Homo sapiens: one gene and its partners. The protein of the gene in region 3 purifies or fractionates together with the protein of the main gene of each other region. This does not show direct contact. Each region holds a gene or a part of one and is shown on either strand. Other genes may lie near its edges.

Region 1 (3,163 bases), on a different chromosome or scaffold from region 3:
CTACCCAAGCGCCTCAGCCTTGACAGCTCCTCCTCCCTCGAGTCTCTTGCTTCTGCTCAGTCTGTTTCCAACGCCCTGCCCTTGGGTTACCAGCAACCCCCCTTCTCTCCCACCGGTGCGGACAGCATCGCCTCAGATGCCATCTCTGTGTACAGTCTGAGCTCCATTGCCTCCTCAATGAGCTTTGTCTCCAAACCCGAGGGTGGATCAGAGGGTGGAGGCCCCGGAGGACGGCAGGACCATGACCGGTCCAAGAACGCTTACCTGCAGAGATCCACCCTGCCTAGGAGCCAGCTGCCTCCCCAGACCCGCCCTGCAGGCAACAAAGATGAAGAAGAATATGAAGGGTTTTCTATCATCAGTAACGAGCCCTTGGCGACCTACCAAGAAAACCGAAACACATGCTTCTCACCAGACCACAAACAACCCCAACCTGGGACAGCCGGAGGCATGAGAGTCTCGGTGAGCTCCAAAGGGAGCATCAGCACTCCAAATTCTCCAGTGAAAATGACTCTGATTCCCAGCCCCAACTCACCCTTCCAAAAGGTGGGAAAACTAGCAAGCTCAGATACAGGAGAATCAGACCAGTCTAGCACAGAAACGGACAGTACCGTGAAATCCCAAGAAGAAAGCAACCCAAAACTGGATCCACAAGAGTTAGCCCAGAAAATTCTGGAGGAGACACAGAGTCATCTCATTGCGGTGGAGCGTCTTCAGAGGAGCGGCGGCCAGGTGAGCAAGAGTAATAACCCTGAAGACGGCGTTCAGGCGCCCAGCAGCACTGCTGTCTTCAGAGCGTCAGAAACCAGTGCGTTCAGCAGGCCTGTTCTCTCCCATCAGAAGAGTCAGCCATCACCAGTCACTGTTAAACCAAAGCCCCCAGCCAGGAGCTCCTCCCTGCCCAAGGTGAGTTCCGGATATAGCAGCCCCACCACCTCAGAGATGTCCATCAAAGACAGCCCGAGCCAGCACAGTGGCCGGCCATCGCCCGGCTGCGACTCACAGACTTCCCAGCTGGACCAGCCTCTCTTTAAACTGAAGTACCCCAGCTCTCCTTACAGCGCTCACATTTCCAAATCACCAAGGAACATGTCCCCAAGCTCCGGCCACCAGTCTCCTGCTGGCAGTGCACCCTCCCCAGCTCTCTCCTACTCCTCAGCTGGATCTGCTCGCTCAAGTCCAGCAGACGCTCCCGACATAGACAAACTGAAAATGGCAGCCATTGATGAAAAGGTGCAGGCTGTCCATAACCTGAAGATGTTCTGGCAGAGCACACCCCAGCATTCCACAGGGCCAATGAAGATCTTCCGGGGGGCTCCTGGCACGATGACTTCCAAAAGGGATGTCCTCAGTCTGTTGAATTTGTCACCACGGCACAATAAGAAGGAGGAGGGAGTGGATAAGCTTGAACTGAAGGAGCTGTCCCTGCAGCAGCATGACGGAGCTCCACCGAAAGCCCCTCCCAACGGACACTGGCGCACCGAGACCACCTCGCTGGGCTCACTGCCGCTGCCCGCCGGCCCTCCCGCCACAGCCCCCGCGCGCCCTTTGAGGCTTCCTTCTGGAAATGGCTACAAGTTCCTGTCTCCAGGAAGATTTTTCCCTTCTTCCAAATGCTAAAGCATCTTTTATACCCACTGACTCTGAGCAGCCTGCAGATGGGGGCCTGGCGTTTGCTTCAGCCCTTCCCTGAGTGCAGTCCCCCCACAGCCACCAGCACCCTCATGATGCTGTGCTCTGCAGGCGAGGGGCACCACCACGTCCAAAGGCTGCCACACACACTGGTGGCTTTTCTGGGCCACATTCACCAAAAGCCAGGACTTCTGTGGGGCTGGTACAGGAGGCTCATGGAATTTCCTACACACTTCACCAAATGTTTGTTTACCTTTGAACTCCCTGCTTCTCATCTTTGATATGATTCTTCACCAGGATTTTGTACAAAAATGATCATGGTTCTGGGGTGGGGAGAGGAAAGGGAGCACATATTTTGCTAAGAGGTATATATGCAGTACCTTTTATACACAGAAATACAAATAGAGCTTTTTCTAAGGCTTTCGGTTGCTGGTTGGGGGTGGGATATATGAAATTTCAGTTGAATTCTACAGGAAAGTGTTATATTAGCCAAAAACAGAAAAATGGTTTTTAAAATGCCAATGATTTGTAATTAAATTGTAGCAATTTTGGTCTCATGATAGTGTAATATCTCAGCAACAATGCAATAATTCACATTGAAACAGCGCTTCCATTCTGAACTCTGCTCTGCAAATGTCTTTTGGGTCCCGCTGTCAACCAAACTTGAATTTTCTTAAAAAAAAAATTATGTAACTCTTATCCAGGCATTTTAGAACTATGCAATTGTGATTTAAAATGCAACTTTGTGCTTTTAAAACATTATTGACCTTTTTTGTATATGGATAAACAACTTGGTTTTATTATCAATAGTACTTTGCATTTATAGCTATTATTTTTAAAAGCTCAAAAAGTTTTTTAAAATGTCAAATTTTGAATAGTCATCAATAAGTAATTATCAAGTTTGGAAGGAAAGGTTGAAATGACTCCGTTTCCTTATAAGCAAAAAAAAAAAAAAAAAAAAAAAAAAAAAAAAAAAAATTTCCATGGCTAACTAGATTTAACCAGAATCCCGCCTTCCAGGCTCCTGTTCCCTTTTATTAGCTGCTGAATTTTATTCCCTTTTCCCAACTCCAGGTCCCTCAGTTGTCTTATATCTAAATCCTTTGCCAGGTCCCCACAATCCCAGCACCTGCCTCTGTGAGCTGCCCCCAGGCCCTCACCTTGGCCCTGGCCAGCCTCCTGTGCTCCTGCTGTCTGAAGGACTGGCCCCTCCCCCACTGCTGAAGCCACACGTACAGATCCTAAGCAACAGGGCCTTTTGCTGGGACGTATGCCTGGATTATGGCCAACCGGGAAGAGAGAGATGTATCTTAAAAAGTGGAGGTGGACTTCTCCTACAGCTCTGACGGTAACTTAAATTGTTGCCAGCTTGAGGCAAGACAAGGGAATCATCTAGTTAGGGGTAACCATTAATTTATTTTATAAAGAAAGGAAATGCTGAAAGTCGTATTAGTACTGAGTTTAGTTGGAGAATTTAGATAAGTAAGTATCTTTTAGGTAATTCTAAAATTAAAATCCTACCCACCTCACT
Region 2 (6,111 bases), on a different chromosome or scaffold from region 3:
CACCCAGCAGGTCCACCCAGGCAGGCGCCAGGGCCGGGCCTGGGTCCCCAGCCAGTCTCTTCTGCCCACTGGCTCTGTGGACTCAGCCTGGCTTTGTGGCATCTCAGGGAGGCAGAAAGAGCTCTGGCCCAGCACCAGCCTGCGGTGTGACCTTGGCCAGGCACAGCCCTCCAGGTCTGCAAGGCAGGAACGCCTCCCCTGCGGCAGTGCCTCCTACAAACCGCTAGGCAAAGAGAAGGGCTGGGTGGTCCGGGCCTCCGCACGCTCGGCACCTCGGCCTGCGCACTGGTGGTTGGGGATGACAACACCTATGTCCCCAGGGGGCCGTGAGCACGGGGGAGACGGTGGAAAGTGAACTTGACGGATGGGAGCCCCCGCCCCCAGCTGTGCAGCCCTTACCCGCTCGTGCATGGGCGAAGCTGGGCTGGAGTCCTCTTCAGTCCCACAGGGGGATGTGTCACCTGTAGACACTCGGCTGACCGCCATCTCGGCGTGGCCCTTGCCCTGGGGGCCCTTCATGCGCACAAACTCCATGTTGCTGTACTTGTAGAAGCCAAACGACATCTTCTGTGCCATGCGGGCGGCCACGCTCACCTGGGGGCCGGCGCGGGGCAGCCTGAGTCAGGGAGGTGGCGATGGCTCCATGGGGCCCCTCCCCAGGACATGAACAGCCAGGGCGACCATCCCTCAAGGAGCGGGGGCTGCCCGGGAGGGAGCGTCTGAGCTGGCAGGCGGGGCAGCTGGAATGGACCCACATCTCTGCCTGGTGCCCCTCCTGGTGCCCCTCCCACCGCCCCATGAACCACGGACCAGGCTGAGGACAGGGCCCCAGGCTGGCAGCAAGGCTGGCTGCGGATGGTGCCCGCTGGGGGAGAGGGGCCTGCCCACATCTGCTTGCTTAGTTGGGGGCGACTCGGAGCACTCCCAGGGCCAGTCGCAGGAAGCAAGTGACAGTGAGGAGGTGACAGCGACACCATCAGCCATCACTTCCCAGGGAACTAGAGACTGAGGAGGAAGTTCCCGCTCACATTTCAGATGAAGGCAAGTGGCCCGCATGGGCTGAGGCCGACCATGAAGAATGACGTTAAGAGGACCAGGGAGCGCCTAGAAGGAGCCCGGAGGGGCTGCAGGTACCCCTGGCGGCCGCTACCATGCACAAGCAGGCTGGGGGGCCCCATGGTATGGACCACGGTGGGCTGTGGAGCCGCCGTCCCCGGGCCCAGAAGAACACCCGTGAGGCCGCCCCGCACTCACCCGGTTGTCATACACCTTCTTGAGCGCCTCGTAGCGGATGGAGCCCTGAAAGATGACCCCCTGGAACGTGTTGGTTTTGTCACTAGCCACCAGCTCCACACAGACCATCTCTCCTTCCCCTACGGTCATGTCGCTGAACACCTGGGCCAGGACACAAAGAGACAGGGACGTGACCATCAGCTCCCACCGCCCACACCACAGCCTGGCCCAACTGGCAGGGAGGGCTGCTCAGAAAACCCCATTTTGCAGGGGACAACCGGCTGTCACACACTCCTGTGGCCCCATGCCCTCCGAGCCCCACAGGACAAGAACAGCCTCACACTGGGGCAGGGGCTGAGCAGCAGGGGAGGACAGGGACGCTTACGGAGACTCTGGGACTGGCAGAAGACGCACACCCTCATCACGGTTCACCAGGACCGTCAGCCACCGTCTGGGCCCCTCCACACCGCCTAGGGGTGCCCAGCCCTGCCTGCCACATCTTTGAGGCTCCTGTGTGGCCAAAGGCTCAGTGTGGTGGCAGGGTGACTGCCCACCTGGGGTGACAACACCAGACTAAGGTGCCACAGGCCCCATCCTGCCACCTTCCCGAGTCATTGCTCCCAGGACCTGGTGCACAGACTGTGAGCTCCGAGGCCACAAAGACTTAGACGCAAATCTCAGCTCTGCCCTCTAGGAGCTACGTGTGCCTGGGGAGGGGACATGACCTCCCTGAGCCTGCGATTTTCCTGCAGACGCCCACGCCTTCCTCCTAAGTCCTCAGGGCCCTGAGCACCTTGGATGCGCACAAGGACCCCGACCAGGGCCTCAACAGAGGAGAGACACAAATGGGCAGAGCAGGGAGTGAGCTGCGACCGGCTCCCTCCCCGCCCTCCCAGTGCCCTGTGTTTCTCGGTGAGTCTCCTTCTGCCCAAGCCCGTTTCCCAAACCTTAAAACAAAGGCTTGGCCCAGATAACTCCGGAAACCCCATCCCTCTTTGACATCCTAGGATTCCAAGTCAGTGCAGGCGTGGAGGCGCTTCTTTATCATTTACTAGCATTAATAATGGCTCCTCCCGCCCGGGCAGTGCTTCTTGCAAGAGTTTATGAGGCGTCCTCCCACTCAGGAGCCTTTTAGTCTTCAGCCCTGACAGTAAGTAGGACAGATGATCATGACACTGATTTTACAGAGGAGGAAACGGAGGCTGCGCCGGGGAAATTCACCTGCCCACAAGCAAACACTGGGAAGAGAGAGAGCCACATCTGCCTCAGCCGGACTCTTCCCGGCTCCAAGCCACCCATGCCTTTCTGCAAGGCTAAGGCCGCGGGGAGAAGCGCCTAACACCCATCTCACGAGAAGGGGAAGCTAAGGAGAGAGGCCCTGTGCAGAGCTCACCTCCTCGAAGCTGTCAATCATGAAGAAGATGTTGGGGTAGCTGATCTTGGACTCCTCCCCCTTGCTGTCCATGGGGTGTTTACTGGGGGACGCGAACACTTGCTGGAAGAAAGCAGATTTGGAGGACAAGTGAGGCCCCACCCGGCACACAGGCCCAGAGCCAGTCCAAGCCAGTATAGGGAGGCCACCCGGCCCAGAGCCAGTCCAAAGCCAGAGACCTACCAGGAGATGTGGGGGATAAGCTGGTTCTGTGCTCCTCGAATGGGATACGGGATCCCAGGAGCTGAGCAGATTTCTGGAGTCAGACCCCTCACCTCCAGGGCAGAGAAGCAAGCAGGAGGACTTGTCTCTCTCTGCCACGCCCAGCCTGAACTGGCAGTTAGGAGGCTGGGGGCTCTCGTGCCAGGGCTCACCTGAGATTTCTTCTTATGGATGTGAATGTCCCCGCCGTCAGCACGTGTGCACACCGCACAGGTCACCATGTAGTCCAGCTGGAAGAGAGCACGGGTCAGCGTGCAGGGAGGGGTCAGCCATCCCACAGGGCCAATCCGCAGCCCCACCCATCCCACCCCATACCTTCTGCAGGATGAGATTCAGGCAGACGCTCTCCTCCCAGTCGATGTCAGGGTCTCCCAGGCCTGGCAGCTTCTTGGAGTCCCGCCGGTACACCTCCACCTCCACCTCAGGCTCAGCTGCCTGCGAGGCCCAGAGCAGAAGTGAGTGCCCAGGGCCCACTGTGGTGCTCTTCTTCTTCCCTGACTACTATGCAGGCATTACGATGGACAAGGACTCCAATTCTTTTTTCTTACTATTTTTTGAGACAGGGTCTCACACCGCTGCCCAGGCTAGAGAGCAGTGGTGCAATGACAGCTCACTGTAGCCTCAACCTCCTGGGCTCAAATGATCCTCTCACTTCAGCCTCCCAAGCAACAGGGACCACAGGCACGTGCTACCACACCCGGCTAATTTTTAAAACTTTTTGTAGATGTGGCGTTTCGCCATGTTGTCCAGGCTGGTCTTGAACTCCTGGGCTCAGGTGATCCTCCTGCCTCGACCTCCCAAAGTACTGGGATTACAGGTGTGAGCCACCATGCCCGGCCAGAACTCCAATTCTTGCTCCCCAGTTCTCTAGCGACGGGAGATGGGACCCAGGGGCCATCCATTCTCCTCACTAAGCCTCAGTTTCTTCATCTGTACAATGGACTAAGGGCATCTTCCCCTCAAAGTTGTCATAATGATTTAAAGAGCTCATATTTGCTAAGTGGCATCAATGATAATAGTGACACCTACTGAGCTCTTAGTGGACGGCGGGGTCTGGGCTACACATTTTACAAATTATTAATCCTTTTAAAGCAACCCTGCAATGCAGGTATCATTAGCCCCATGTTAACAGATCAGAGTCAAATTTACTGAAGATCAATAATAAATACATATCAGAGAGAAACCAAAGCATGTCTACACCTCTCCTGGGAGACTGGCTTCCAATTTTTTTTTTTTTTTGAGACAGAATCTCACTCCATCCGTCACCCAGGCTACAGTGCAACACATCTTGGCTCACTGCAGTCTCCGCCTCCTGGATTCTAATGATTCTCCTGCCTCAGCCTCCTGAGTAGCTGGGATTACAGGCACGTGCCACCACACCTGTCTACTTTTTGTATTTTTGGTAGAGACAGGATTTCACCATGTTGGCCAGGCTGGTCTCGAACTCCTGACCTCAGGTGATCTGCCCACCTCGGCCTCCTAAAGTGCTGGGATTACAAGCATGGGCCACCGTGCCCGGCCTCAATTTATTTCTTATTTATTGTTTTGAGACGGAGTCTCGCTCTGTCACCCGGGCTGGAGTACAGTGGCACAATCTTGGCTCACTGCAACCTCTACCTCCTGGGTTCATGTGATTCTCCTGCCCCAGCCTCCCAAGTAGCTGGGATTACAGGTGTCTGCCACCACACCTGGCTAATTTTTTTCTGTATTTTTAATAGAGAGGGGGTTTCACCATGTTGGCCAGGCTGATCTCGAACTCCTGACCTCAAGTGATCTACCCACCTCGGCCTCCCAAAGTGCAGGGATTACAGGCATGAGCCACTGCACCCGGCCTCAATTTATTTCTTATTTTTTTATTTTTTTGAGATGAAGTCTTGCTTTGTCACCCGGGCTGGAGTACAGTGGCACAATCTTGGCTCACTGCAACCTCTACCTCCTGGGTTCACGTGATTCTCCTGCCCCAGCCTCCCAAGTACCTGGGATTATAGGCGTCTGCCACCACACGTAATTTTTTTTTTTTTTTTTTAATAGAGACGGGGTTTCACCATGTTGGCCAAGCTGATCTCAAACTCCTGACCTCAAGTGATCTACCCACCTCGGCCTCCCAAAGTGCAGGGATTACAGGCGTGAGCCACCGCGCCCAGCCTGGCTTTCAATTTTGAAGCAGCTGTGCTGACTGGGGGCCTCTGGTCCCGGTCCTGGGTGCTCTCACTGACTCGGGCTCCGAGGGGCTGGGCACTGCTGGGCCCTCTTGCAGGTGCACAGGCCTGCACCCCCCAAAGGCAGAGCTGGGATCTATGGAAAGAGGTGCAAGAGGCCAACCTTGCCTAGGAGCGAGAAACAGACGTCCCCGGGTCGGGGGGCCCCACTTCCACCGCCTGTATGGTTCTGCAGTCACCCCGAGCCCCTGAGCTGAGAGTCCTGGGGTTCACAAGACTCTGCTGTTCCTCCTGGTCTCGCTTCATTGACCTGTTCATTTGCTTTTGCTCAGCAAAGCGCTGTGGACTCAGTGAATGAAAGGCTCGGGGGCACGATCACACGGCTGTTCGGGGCAGCACCACAGCACAGGCAGGCGAAAGAGCAGGTTCCCCATCAGAAAGGTGTCCGTGTGCGCACCAAAGCCAGGCCCAAGAGGACACTGGGAGCTGCCCGGTACCCACTGACAGGAGGGTGGCCAGGCCGCCATGGTACACTCTGCAGGCATTACACAGCAGTGAGACCAGATTACAACCACCTGTGTCAACAGGCATGACTCACAAACATGACATGCGGAGAAAGAAGCCTGAAACAACATATACTGCCCGATTCCAATGTATGAGCTGTGAGAACAGGCAGAACCACCGACTCCACACACATGAGCTGTGAGAACAGGCAGAACCACCGACTCCACATGCACGAGCTGTAAGAACAGGTAGAACCCGCCAACTCCACACACACGAGCTGTGAGAACAGGCAGAACCCAACTCCACACGCAGGAGCTGTGAGAACAGGCAGAACCACCGACTCCACACGCACGAGCTGTAAGAACAGGCAGAACCCACCGACTCCACATGCAGGAGCTGTGAGAACAGGCAGAACCCGCCCGGGAAGTTTGAGGAGACAGAGCAGCAGCTGCCCAGGGGGAGGTTGAGCCCTGGGGTGGGGTGAAGGGGCCTCGGTGTTCTCATCACACTCTGTATCTGGGGGCTGGTGAAACCAGGTGTTCAGTCTAAGAAGAATCAAAC
Region 3 (3,500 bases):
TCTGCCAGGATAAGGCCTGATTCCTTCACTCAGGGAGATCATAATCAAGAGAGAATGAAAATAGGATTCAAGTAAAACATGGCAAGCTCTGTGAAAAAGGCCTAAGAGCTTCATGAAAATAGTAATCCCCAATAGCACCTTTGTACTCCACGTGTACTCCCAGTGTCTTGCTTGGTGCCTGGTGCATGATAGAGACTTCATAGATATTTGGAGAGAGGTGAAGCTAGAGAGAGGAAAAGTGGAAGAAGAGAGAAAAATATGAATAAAAAAAGGACTGAGCCTGTCTTCCCACAGCGGGGAAAAATGGTGTGTTCTTTATCAATATTGGCCTTCTGGTCACAAGTCCACCTACCCACAGTGAGTTTCCATTTGGGCACTTCAAATACAAGTTTTCATGCCTTGAACCAAAATCCATTTCTTAGTAGATGAGACTTATAGATGTGCTCTCAGTCAAAACTCTGAGGGAGATCACAGAAAATAGCAAGGTTTCCCTGTTTTGGTTATCAGCGGAAATGTCGTGCGTGCCGTGGACCATTCTACATGGATGCTGTAAGTTGCAGTCTGGTCACCATGGACTGTGGAAATCTGCAATCCATGCCTAGAAGAGTCAGCAAGTTAGAACACTTGAAAAACTGTTATTTAAATTTAAGCTTTTTTTCTTTCCAATTTTGGTCACTCAGAATGTGATTTCATATCCAAAAATGAAATAGAGGAGTAGCAAATTATCTGAATAATTCATGCCAGAATTACCCAAACACTTTCGTTCTTTGAATACTGTTAATTTGGGACTAGGTAATTGAAGGGTTCAGGGAGGATTGAATTATCCTGATATTTTTCAGATAAATGCCTCAAGTTAATATTTTACTTGGTACAGACTTAGCTCTAATCATAAGGGGTTTTGTCCTGCAGAAAGAGTGCTCATTTTAGTGTTTTTGACCACAGCACCTCTTATATTAAAGCAGAAATGCCCATCAAAGTCTAAACTTTATTATCTTTAGACTATGACCAAAACCTTCTTTTAAGTGTTCTATTTTAATTTATTGTTAAAGTGATATAGATACTTATAAGAGTAATACTAGCATTATAATAAAGACTGGATGTGCCCTGTGCCAAACCCACCCCCTTCCCTAGCCTCACTCTTTTGAATCGACCATTCACTTTTCCTTCAGGTGTTTTCTCTAGTATTCTCTATTTCTAAGTAACATGCTCATACAGATTTTCAGTTTCAAATAGTATCCCTGTTATCTACTGGCATTCTACTATAGAAAATCAAAATGATAGCACTTATAAACACTTATAAAGCACGTACAGTATCCCAGAGAATATTTCAGGTGCTTTACACATATGTACTATTTTAATCTTCTCAATGACACTATGTGGCAGATACTTTTTTTTTTTTTTAAGAAACAGGGTCTTGCTCAGTCACCTAGGCTGCAGTGCAGTCGTGTGATCTTGGCTCACAGCATCCTCTAACTTCTGGGCTCAAGAGATCCTCCCACTTCAGCCTCCTGAGCAGCTAGAACTACCAGCATGTGCCACCCCACCCAGCCAAGCAGATACTATTATTATCCTAATTTTGCGTATTGGAAACTGAGACATAGAATGATTACATATCTTGCCCAAGATTACATAGTAATGATGGCAATAAATTGTGGAGCCAGGATTTGAACTCAGTCTGGCTCCTAAATCCGTATTTTTAACAATGATCCAAATGTGTCTAGCTCCATTTTAGCATCCAACAATCCAACACTGCACCTGTTCTCTCTTGTTCTGTCTCTCTCTTTCCCTCTCTTTCCTATCTCTCACACACGCACCTACACACATGCACACATTCCTGCTTCCTCTTCCTCCCACCCCCATGAATATAGTTGTATCACTCTCAAGAGCTAAATCAGTATTCAGTGTTAATTATCATTATGGTTATTTAAATATTAATCACAAGGACTCATTATGTTGTCCTATGTTATATTTTCTTTCTCATACAATTTTATGTTTGCCATGGAAATAATTTTGGTTTCTTAATTTACAATGCGTTTCTAAACACTCTGCTGAAGACCAAACCATCTTTTAGCACCCTCAGACAGCTCAGGTGTTTGTCAGTTACTCTCTGTTCATGGAGACCCCTCCTCCTGCCCCCATCTTCACTGCTGCCTCCTGGCACTGCCACACAGCTATCATCCTGGAGTCTCTCATGCACATCATCCTGGGAATTCCTTGTGCTTCTCTCCTGTTTAGACTCTGTTTCCTGAACCTGTCTTTTCCTTTCTATTTTGTTTATTCTCATGCTTCAGTCATATATCTTCCCACCCAAGGAAGGTAAACAGTTGCTAATTTTTTTGAGACCCTGACAGTCTGAAAATATCTTCAATTTACCAGATTGAGTGTTTGACTCAGTATAGGATTCTAGGTGGGAAATTATTCTCTTTCAGAATCTTGAACACATCATTTCATTTTCTTTTGCTTCTAATGTGTCTGTTGAGAAGCCCTATTCTTCTCTGCCAATGGCTTGGAAGATTTTATGATTTCTTCTTTATCTCCAATATTTTGATTTTTTGATGCTTTGCCATGATGTGGGTCTGTTTTCATTCCTGGGCTGTGGGCACTCAGCAAGCTTTTTCAATCTGGAACCCTCAGTACTTCAGTTCTGGGAAATGTTTTGTACAATTTCTTTGAAAATTTTCTCTTCTCCAATTTCTCTGTTCCCTCTTTTGAAAATCCTCTTATTCTAATGTTAGACACACTGGACTGATCCTCAGATTTTCTAATGATTCTTCTCTATTTTTCCATACTTTGACTTTTTCTAGTTTGAATCTCTAATATATCTACTGAAACTTGCCTTTCAATCTTGCTATTGAATTTTTTATTTCTGTTATAATAATATTAATTTCCAACATCACTTTACTGGTCTTCTCTTTGTTCCTTTTTTATAGCTGTTTTTTTTTTTTTTTCTTTTTCTTTTTGAGACAGAGTCTTGCTCTGTCACCCAGGCTGGAATGCAATGGTGTGATCTTGGCTCACTGCAACCTCTGCCTCCTGGGTTCAAGTGATTCTTATGCCTCAGCCTCCATAACTGGGACTACAGCCACCACACCTGGCTAATTTTTGTATTTTTGGTAGAGACAGGGTTTCGCCATGTTGGCCAAGCTGGTCTCGAACTCCTGACCTCAACTGATCTACCTGCCTCAGCCTCCCAAAATGTTGGGATTACAGGCATGAGCCACCATGCCCGGCTTTTATAGAGTTTTATGTGCAAATCTTATTTAAATTTTTGCAGTCAAATACAAATGCGTATCTTTATCTTCCTTTTTACAATAAAGGTGTCGCACTGTACACACAGTTTTGTTTCTTGCTTTTTTTTATCTGACACGTTGGAGGACTTTATGTGTTAGTATATAGAGAGCTTCTTCATTCTTTAACATAGTTGCTATCATCTTCAGAAGTACACGGTGCTTCTAATTCCTGCATCTGGTAGTGCAAATCAGTTAGTTGGATTCCCTGAC
Region 4 (6,111 bases), about 54 Mb from region 3:
ACATCCGCGCAGACGCTGGATGGGAGGAGGCAACACTGGAGGGGCGAGGCTCCCAGCCGCGACCGCAACCCTGGCCCTGTCCATGCCCCGGGGTTGGACGCGGGCGGGTAGGACAGACAGATGGACAGACACTAACACAGGCTCCGAGGGGGTTGCCTCAGAGCGGAAGGAAGATCTCGTGATTGGGGAGAAGGAGTCTAAGGACAGCCCTGGCTCTGGGGGGCGGGGCAGGGACAGGGACAGAATTGTGCTGCTGGTGGGGGCTCTCCTGGGCCCCTACGCCTCTGGCTCATACTCCTGATATTCCTCCTGCATCACCGGGATGGGGGTGGAGTAGAGAAGAGCAAAAAGGAGGAGGAGTTTGAGACCAAGTGGCCAAGCCCCGGCCCAAGAACCCTCTCCCTGAAGGAGGAATAGCACATTCCCCTTTTCCTGGGCAGGGGAGGAGCCTGGAAGTTGGGGACAACAGAGAATTCTTGGGCAGGTGTGCCTGGGGCCCAGCGCTAGACCCTATCTGCCCTCTCCTCCCTGCTCCCACCTCCTGGGGCCTGGGTTCTAGAAGAGGGATGTCAAGCTCCCTGGCCCAACCATCTCATGCCAGGGATGTCCCACCCCAGCTAGGGACGGCAGCAATCATCCTGGATTCCCAAAGTCCCGCCCAGCCCTGCTGCCCCCTCACCTGGGGTGGGTCCTCATAACTCTCCCCTTCTGGCTCCATCAGGGGCTCAATCAGTGGTTCTTCAGCAGCTTCCTGGGCCACTTCCTCTGGCTGTGGGCAGAAAAGGTCAGGACTCGTGAGGACAGCCAGGATGCCCCCCAAATTCCCACAGTGGTAAGCTTTGGGTGGGTTGGAGTGGGGAAGGCTAGGGTGGGTTGGCAGAGCAAGGATAATTTCTAATTCAGTTATTTATTTGGAGTGCCTTGGAAGTGGGATGGAGGTGAAGGGGGAAATTCCCCCGAATCACAGTTGAAGTGGCAGCATGGAGTGGGAGCTGGCTCTCCACGCCGCTCCCCCAATGCCTGGCAGCCTCCACACTTCCACCATTTGGATACTCAGTCACCAGCTTATGCCTCATCCTTTGTGTCAGGCTCTGTGCTGGGCATCGGGACCCCAGAGATAACCCTCAGGCTCCCCTGGGCTGAAGGGAGCTGGAGGCTCAGGGACAGGGCTGGGCAGGGGCTCTGAGCCATTCCCCCGCCACCTTCCACTCATCCCTCCCCCGGGCCCTGTGTGGCCTCGTTTCTTCAGCTGTTGCTATTTTAAGATAAGCTGGAAGCCACAGCTCGTGGTGTTGCTTGGATGTGTGAGCTAAGACTCTCCCCCCCACCCGCTGCGTCTGCTGCCCAGACAGGCGCAGACCAGCGGGCATGCATGTGGGCGGGCTGCCAGACACATGGCCAGCCACCTGCAGGTGACCACATGTATGTGAACAAACATGGGACTGAGCTGGCTGCACACACAAGCACACGCGATAGCTTAGGATCCATGCACAGCCTGTGCAGTGCCTCATGTGGGGCTGGCACACGCCTGGGATCCCGGAGCATTGGTGCTGGGGAAAGCCTGCCCTGACCACGTCTGCACCCTGGGTGTCCCAGCTCCATCCAGGCAGCGTCAGCTCCTTCACATTACCTGTCTAAGTGGGCCCTGTGGGCACATGAGTTTCCAGCTCCTGACCTGGCTCATTTCCCCACTGCACAGATGCGTATGCCAAGGCCCAGGAGGTGGGGAAATGTTAGTTTGCCCCCAAGTCACCCAGCTATGACCAGAACCCAGGGATGGAATGTAGTGCTAAAAATGCCAGCTTGATAGCTGGGCACTGTGGTGCGTGCCTCTAGTCCCAGCTACTTGGGAGGCTGAGGCAGGAGAATCGCTTGAACCCGGGAGGCGGAGTTTGCAGTGAGCCAAGATCACGCCACTGCACTCCAGCCTAGGTAACAGAGTGAGACTCCATCTCAACAAAACAAAACAAAACAAAACAAAACAAAACAAGCCAGCTTGAGCACATTGTTTGGAAACAACCCAAATGTCCAACATCAGTAGAATGGATGTGTGCCTTGTGACCTAACGACACAATGGAATACTACATAACAAGAATGAAGAACAACAATGCATACAAGAGCAGGGCTGAGTCTCACAAGCTTCCTGATGAATGGAGGAAGCCAGATACAGAACAGAAGAGCATGGCCTTCATGATGACTTTTTTTTTTTTTTTTTTTTTTTTGAGACAGTCTCACTCTGTGGCCCAGGCTGGTGCGCAGTGGTGTGATCTCGGCTCACCGCAACCTCAGCCTCCTGGGTTCCAGCGATTCTCCTGCCTCAGCTTCCCAAGTAGCTGGGATTACAGGCATGTGCCACTGCATCTGGCTAATTTTTGTATTTTTAGTAGAGATGGGGTTTCGCCATGTTGGTCAGGCTGTTCTCAAACTCCTGACCTCAGGTGATCTGCCCACCTCGGCCTCATGCCTGGGATTACAGGCATGAGCCACTGTGCCCAGCCTCATGATAACATTTACAAGAAGTCAAAAAACACCCAACTAGTGTTGTGCTGATAGAAGCCAGGAAGCAAGGCCAGGCATAGTGGCTCACGCCCGTTACCACTCCCAGCATTTTGGGAGGTCAAGGTGGGCAGATCACTTGAGGTCAGGAGTTTGAGACTAGCCTGGCCAACATGGTGAAACCCATCTCTACTAAATATACAAAAATTAGCTGGGCATGGTGGTGCACGCCTGTAGTCTCAGTTACTCAGGAGGCTGAGGCAAGAGCATTGCTTGAACCCAGGAGGTGAAGGTTTCAGTGAGCTGAGATTGTGGCACTGCACTCCAGCCTGGGCAACAGGGCGAGACTCCGTCTAAAAAAAAAGTCAGAAAGCAGTTCCCCTTGGAGGGCGATAGGCAGGGCCAGGACTGAGGGGAGGTGGGTGAGGCTCCTGGAGTGTAGATGTTAGGGAGGCCTGGCCTCCGTCTCCTGGCCATGCAAGTGAGACTCCATGAGTGAGTGCCCCAGACACCTCTTTTGTCTCCCCCTAGTCCTGGCCCTGGGGATAGGAACTGGAAGGGGTCACAAGGTGGGGTCCTGGGGGGTAGTGTTCTGTCTCGAGCTGGCTACTGGTTACAAGGGGAGTTCCCTTTGTGAACATTTCATGGAGCTGCCAGTTTTCCACATGTACATTGTACTTCAATAAAAAGTTCACTTAAAAAAATACCCATAGCCTGTAATCCCAGATACTTGGAGGGCTGAGGCAGGAGGATTGCTTGAGCCCAGGAGTTCCAGATCAGCCTGGGCAACATAGCAGGACCCCATCTCAGAAAACAAACAAACAACCCCAGCCTGGCCACCTGGTAGCTACCTGGCATCAGGCAAGTCATTTTGCTTCTAATCTCAGCAGCCTTGCATGGGAAACGAGGCTGGTGAGGATTCCGTGATGATGGATGGAAAGCATGCTCGAAGCAGAGAGTCTCAGAAATGCAGACCATGGGCCTGCATGAGTCCCCCATGCCGCTGGTGGCCCAAGGGGCTGTTGTCTGTGTTATAACTCTATGATCTTGGGCTCCCTTGGGAGGGTAGCCTTGAGGCGTCAACAAGCACCAGTAGGAGAAAGGTGACCAGAGAGAAATGGTTCTGTGCAAACACCCATCACAGCCTGGGGCTGACAGGCTGAACCTGCCTCTCTTTTGCACCCCAGCTCGCAGCACTAGGACTGGCCCTGTGCCATCACCAAGCGACCCCAGTGACATGGCCTGAGCTTATCCTCCTGACCACCTTATAAGGGAGGCAGGCAGGAAATGGGGTCTTGGGCAAGTGACTTCACTTCTCTAAACCTCAGTCTCTTCATCTGTAAAACGGGCTGGTTATGGTGCCACATTGGGAAGAGTCAATGAGTTAGTTCATCTAGAGTCAAACATCTAGGACAGTGCCTGCTCATGAAAGAGATCAATGAATGGAAGTGATTATTGGTAACATGATTATAAGAAATGGGAAGTCATGGCCGGGTGCAGTGGCTCATGCCTGTAATCCCAGCACTCTGGGAGGCCGAGGCAGGTGGATCACCTGAGGTCAGGAGTTCGAGACCAGCCTGGCCAACATGGTGAAACCCCGTCTCTACTAAAAATACAAAAAATTAGCCGGGTGTGGTAGCGGGTGCCTGTAATTCCAGCAACTTGGGAGGCTGAGGCAGGAGAATTGCTAGAATCCAGGAGGCAGAGGTTGCAGTGAGCCAAGATCGTGCCATTGCACTCCAGCCTGGGCAACAAGAGCAAAACTCCGTCTCAAAAAAAAAAAAAAACAAAAAAAAACAAATGGGAAGTCATACAGATAGTAAAATGCAGAGACAGGGCTTGAACTAGAACTTCTGAGTCAAGATCCTGACTTCCAACAGTGGAAGGAACCAACTGTGCAAAATGACAGGAGTGGAGGGCAGCGTGGGGTCTCCCACAGCCTGGTGGATGCACTCATGCTGAACGTACACTGATCACCCAAACCAGACGCTGCAGAAGGAGCCCCCATCCCCATGGAGGCAGGGTCTGCACGCGTCCATGGACAGACACAGAGCATTCACAGCGAATGCCTGCACACACATGTCATGGGGGATCCACTTCCAGGCACGCCTGTGGTCACAGGATCCCCTGCAGGCAGACCCAGACTGCTTGAGTGATCATGTGGCCACAATCTCTTGCAGGGCATTCACTGTATGCAAACCCAGCTCTTTATATCCATGGTTCTCATAGTATGCTCCCTGGAACTGCGGCATCAACCTCACCCGGGTACTTGTTAGAAATGCAAATCCTCCAGCCCCACCTCAGACCTACTGAATCAGAAATTCTAACGATGGGGCCAAAAATCTGTATTTTAACCTGGCCTCTTGGTGATTGATACACACTCAAGCTTTGAGAATATCTATATTATCTCCAATCTGCATGAGATTCCTATTGTGTTCACTCGCATTTTACAAGTGAACTATCAAGTTCAGAGACATGGTGGGAACTGCCCAGGGTCACACAGCCAGGAAGTAGTGGAGTTAGGATTCAAACCCAGCTGAGGCTGGGGGTAGGTGGGTTCAGAGCTCACAACTCTTAACCCCCTCTTATCAGGGGGTCCTAGTAGGGGGATCTGTCTCCATGCACACATGAGTGGTTCCCAGGGCTCCCCTGGGGAAACACAACTGCACAGATCACACCCACCCCAGCACAGCTCCCACCTGCTCCAACCTGCCTCAGGGCCTTGGTACTTGCTGTTCCTACAGCCTGAAATTCGCTTCCCACACATCTCAAGGCTGCCTCTCTCATCCCTTGGGTGTCAGCTCAAATGGTTCTTCCTCAGAGAAGTCTTCCCAGCCAAAATAGCCCTCTCACCCCTTGCCTGTCTGTCCCATCGCCCTCTCTGTCTTTTCTCTGTAGCACTTATCCCCGCGGAAAGCATCCTGCCTGCTGGCTTGCGTTTTACTATCTTCTCCCACTACAATGTCAGCTGCAGGAACGTAGGAACCTATTCACTGCGGCAGCCTCTACAACAATTCCTCTCTGGCATGGATATTTGTTGAATGAAAAGAAATGAATGAACAATCATTGACACATGCAGACGTGGCCAGAAGTCATCTGGGTCACGCTGGCAAGCAGGATACACGCAGACAGCCAGGTCTGGGTCCCCATCACCGGGAGCGTCACACCCATGCACGCCTTTATTCAGATGCATTCTGAGCTGAGTCTAGCACGGGCCTGCAGGATGGGAGGCAAAGTGGCTTGTGTTCCAAGCTGGTGGCAGGATTAGGGGGGCGGGGATGGTGACAGGTTTATTTGTGTGCCTGGTGTGTGTGTGTGTGTGTGTGTGTGTGTTTGCCTGCATGTGCGGGTCAGAAGGATCGCTTACCTTCAGATCAGTAGGGAATTCCTCCCTCTTCACCAGTCCTGTGGCTGCTGCGATGTTCCCTGCCCCAGAGAACACAGCTCCTCCCAGATGTGAGGCCTGTTCCTTGGTTTTTTCAGCCACTGGAGCAGGGAGGGGGTTGAGGAAGGGGTTTGGGAGCCAGGGGGAAACACCGATGCCCTGCCTTGTAGTATCCCAGGGCCTGCCCTCCCCACGGAGCATTCCCGCAGAAGCCTTGGGAGTCTCCCCCG
Region 5 (3,500 bases), on a different chromosome or scaffold from region 3:
GTCACTGAGCTAGTAAGTAGCAGGGCTGGATTTCAGAGCTGGTCTGATGTCAAATGCATGCTTCTTTTTTTTTTTTTTTGAGATGGAGTCTCGCTCTGTTGCCCAGCCTGGAGTGCAATGGCGCAATCTCGGCTCACTGCAAGCTCCACCTCCCGGATTCACACCATTCTCCTGCCTCAGCCTCCCCAGTAGCTGGGACTACGGGCACACGCCACCACACCTGGCTAATTTTTTGTACTTTTAGTACAGACGGGGTTTCACCGTGTTAGCCAGGATGGTCTCAATCTCCTGACCTCGTGATCCGCCCACCTTGGCCTCCCAAAGTGCTGGGATTACAGGTGTGAGCCACCGCGCCCGGCCAAATGCATGCTTCTTTAATCAGGCCACACAGCCCTCAACTTCACAGGGCAGGTGTATGCGAGTCATCTTTGGCTTTGTGCTTCTTACACAGTCAATTTCTTCAGTAGCACATCACAAAATTGAAACCATAATAGAATTGCCCAAAGATCAGAAATTGGTTATGTGGTCATTCCTGCAGGTCAACTCATATCCTTAAGCAAAGTTGTATGTACTGGCTGTTCAATAAATATTTGTTAAAGGAAATCAAGTTTAAATATGGTGAGATTCAGAGAGTCAAATATGAGCCTCAATTCTCAAGTTAAGAATAGTTGAATCAGAATAAGGGAAGTAGTTTTAAGTTTTTCTAACCAATAATTTTCTATCCAATAATTATCCAATTTATATGCTGACAATCTTTTAACTAAATTCCATACACAGAGTATTTCTAAAATAGTATTCCAATACAAGTAAGCTTTGGTATGATGCTGTTTTTGATCATTTAAGAAAATTACAGTGCATGGAAATAAAATGATAAAGTGCTTTTAAGATTTCTGTTAGATCTGATAATGGCATTCTAGATATACAAGATAACTAAAAGGTTTTCATAGTTATATACTGAAGAATATAGGGATGAAATAACATGATGCCTGGGAATTACTTTTAAATACTCTTTTTTTAAAAAAAAGGGAAAGGGTAATAGATGAGCTATGGTAAAACTCTGATTGTTATTTATTAGGCCTGGGTGATGGTGTGGGGATTAATTATCCAGTCCCCACTGTTGTGTATATTTGAAAGTTCCATTAAGGGGGAAAAGGAAGAAAAACTCATTCCTAAAACACCTGGCTTTATAAAATATTGTGTATAAAAAGTACTAGAAAAAGGGGGACGGAGAATTGGAGAGTTACAGAATTGCAACTTGCAGTTAATGAATTTTTCCCCAAAAACAATGTATTCCAAGAGCTATAAAAATCCAAATAACAGAGCATTTAGTTCTGACTTTTGCTCTAAAGAAAAGCTTTAATAGTTATAAGAAATTGGCCAATTTTCCTAGTACCCCCAAGTCTTTGGAAGGACACTTCTTAAACAGTCTCTCCCTTGTTGTCACCCATTGTTACAATAAAGCACAAAGCCACTCAGCAAAGCAGCTGCACAATGCTTACGACAGCTGTTTTCTCCTGCAGCAGCACTAATTTCCTATCATGACGGCAACCAAGCGGTCAGCACAATGGAAGGATAAAACGCCTACATTTTCTTTTTTTTTTCAATATATGCATTACCTACTTTTTAAATTTGTGTGTACTAAAAGGCTGTGTATTAAGAAAAGTTAAATATATAAGAGATCTTTAAAGCGAAGCTATTTATAAAGCAAAATTCTGTATGTTTAAAAGTTCTGATTATATACGTGTAAACATACCTTATTCTTAAATTGATGCAAACGAGGAACATTCATGTTGCATAAGCCAAGATCTTTATTATAACACTCACCTTGAGATGTTTTCCCATCCAGGGGAAGAAAGGTTCCGAAGAACTTCCCTTTGCCTTAAACCATCACTTGAGGAATCCTCAGGATACTGTCCCCGATTAGAACCAGCAGGCTCCTCTGTGGATTCAGCCACCTAAATAAGTGTAACATGAACACAGAACAAAGGAGCTGATGCAACTGTCTGAAATCAAGCAAAAGGAATTATTTTGCTGTCAAGGGCTTACATCTCCTACCCCCCACCTCTGAACGTGACAAAATTAAACAGAAGCAACGTTATGTAAAAAATAGTCTGACATTTATTCAACATAATTTTCAATACATAGATGCTAAAATATTCATATTTTTTCCCTAGAGTATGCTACACTTTCATTAAAATCTTCCAATGAAGTTGTCATTGGTGAGAAAGCTTCCTGATAATGGTGCTAAATTTACTCATTGCAGACATCTGACCAACAAGATTTATAAATACAACCCAGCCCACAACTTTCTAAAATAGTATTCCAATATAAGTAAGCCTTGGTATGATACTGTTTTTGATCATTTAAAAAAATTACAGTGCAGGGAAATGAAATGATAAAGTGCTTTTAAGATTTTTGTTAGAACTGATAATGGCAAAATAGGGAATTTCCTATGCTCTGTTCAGATGTTCTAGGAAATATAATGCAAATTTAGAGTGCATCACTACATTAGAATACTAATACCATATATGTGAATAAACATTGTGAAATGAAAAATAAATGGTTTCGTGTGTCATATATGTCTTTAGAGCCAGGTCTAGTGGCACATGCCTGTAGTCCCAGCTACTCAGGAGGCTGAGGTGGGAGGATCGCTTGCCCTCAGGAGTTTGAGAAAAGCCTGGGCCACACAGCGAGACCATTTTTAAAAAAAAAAAATTCTTTAAAGATCACTTGATAAAAACTCTGATCTTTTCCTATCCAACTAATCACAATGAAAATTTCCAAAGGAAATATATTCACTTTTGTACTCTTTATAAAAATTAGTGACTCCTTTGAAGAAACTTGCTATGTGCTAAATTCAATAAAAACCCGATTAGTGTTAGTTCAGTAATCTAGATACACAGTAACCATAGATCAAATCATATCCCATAAGATAGTGCAATATGTAACTCCACCTTTCTACTACAGCACTAACGGAACAATCTGCTACTATTAACTCATCACTTTGTGTTGATAATACAGTTTCTAATTCCTAGGAAAGAAACAAAATATTACTTGGTAATAACACCATACAGTCTCTCAATAAACGTTTTATCCAACTTCTTTTATTACTCCCCTGAAAGTCTGAATGATACAAATTGTTACCATCATGAAGAGGCAGACACACCTTGGCGTTGATTTCTGGCATTTTTGAAGGACTCTTCACATTGCACACCAGATGCAAAACATGCCGTTTTTCCTGCTAAAAGTAATACGAAGGTACTTAAGGACCTGAACCTAACCTGGTGAGTGCTTAAAAACATTCAGAAGTTAATGTGTAAGTGATGTACCTTTGGAAGCAAGTCCCTGAGACATTGGTGATCCAACAACAGCTTCCCAGAATAAATTAACCTCTGGTCCTCTGGACGCTGATCATGGAAAGAAAGAGTAACACAGGTCAGCATTTCACCCCTACAAGTTCCTAAACACAGAATAAACTGTTTTATACAAGTAATTTGAAT

The links.
Region 1: the proteins of SNCAIP (region 3) and TTC28 purify together in Homo sapiens (affinity purification with mass spectrometry; one large-scale study listed by BioGRID and IntAct). This does not show direct contact.
Region 2: the proteins of SNCAIP (region 3) and KIAA0930 purify together in Homo sapiens (affinity purification with mass spectrometry; one large-scale study listed by BioGRID and IntAct). This does not show direct contact.
Region 4: the proteins of SNCAIP (region 3) and SNCB purify together in Homo sapiens (co-immunoprecipitation; one study listed by IntAct). This does not show direct contact.
Region 5: the proteins of SNCAIP (region 3) and HERPUD1 purify together in Homo sapiens (affinity purification with western blotting; one study listed by BioGRID). This does not show direct contact.

What each region holds. Positions count from the first base shown.
Region 1 is NC_000022.11:27,980,678-27,983,840, reverse strand, and holds part of TTC28 (tetratricopeptide repeat protein 28), read left to right. Parts: coding exon 1-1,620; 3' UTR 1,621-3,163. UniProt on the Homo sapiens protein: During mitosis, may be involved in the condensation of spindle midzone microtubules, leading to the formation of midbody.
Region 2 is NC_000022.11:45,202,591-45,208,701, forward strand, and holds part of KIAA0930 (uncharacterized protein KIAA0930), read right to left. Parts: intron 3,323-6,111; coding exon 3,203-3,322; intron 3,118-3,202; coding exon 3,040-3,117; intron 2,729-3,039; coding exon 2,627-2,728; intron 1,396-2,626; coding exon 1,255-1,395; intron 595-1,254; coding exon 400-594; intron 1-399.
Region 3 is NC_000005.10:122,458,737-122,462,236, forward strand, and holds part of SNCAIP (synphilin-1), read left to right. Parts: exon of another isoform or gene 1-598; intron 599-3,500. UniProt on the Homo sapiens protein: Isoform 2 inhibits the ubiquitin ligase activity of SIAH1 and inhibits proteasomal degradation of target proteins. Isoform 2 inhibits autoubiquitination and proteasomal degradation of SIAH1, and thereby increases cellular levels of SIAH.
Region 4 is NC_000005.10:176,620,535-176,626,645, forward strand, and holds part of SNCB (beta-synuclein), read right to left. Parts: intron 5,983-6,111; coding exon 5,864-5,982; intron 770-5,863; coding exon 680-769; coding exon of another isoform or gene 593-679; exon of another isoform or gene 515-592; intron 310-514; coding exon 277-309; 3' UTR 1-276. UniProt on the Homo sapiens protein: Non-amyloid component of senile plaques found in Alzheimer disease. Could act as a regulator of SNCA aggregation process. Protects neurons from staurosporine and 6-hydroxy dopamine (6OHDA)-stimulated caspase activation in a p53/TP53-dependent manner.
Region 5 is NC_000016.10:56,935,142-56,938,641, reverse strand, and holds part of HERPUD1 (homocysteine-responsive endoplasmic reticulum-resident ubiquitin-like domain member 1 protein), read right to left. Parts: intron 3,408-3,500; coding exon 3,330-3,407; intron 3,242-3,329; coding exon 3,167-3,241; coding exon of another isoform or gene 3,165-3,166; exon of another isoform or gene 3,151-3,164; coding exon of another isoform or gene 3,145-3,150; intron 1,956-3,144; coding exon 1,825-1,955; intron 1-1,824. UniProt on the Homo sapiens protein: Component of the endoplasmic reticulum quality control (ERQC) system also called ER-associated degradation (ERAD) involved in ubiquitin-dependent degradation of misfolded endoplasmic reticulum proteins.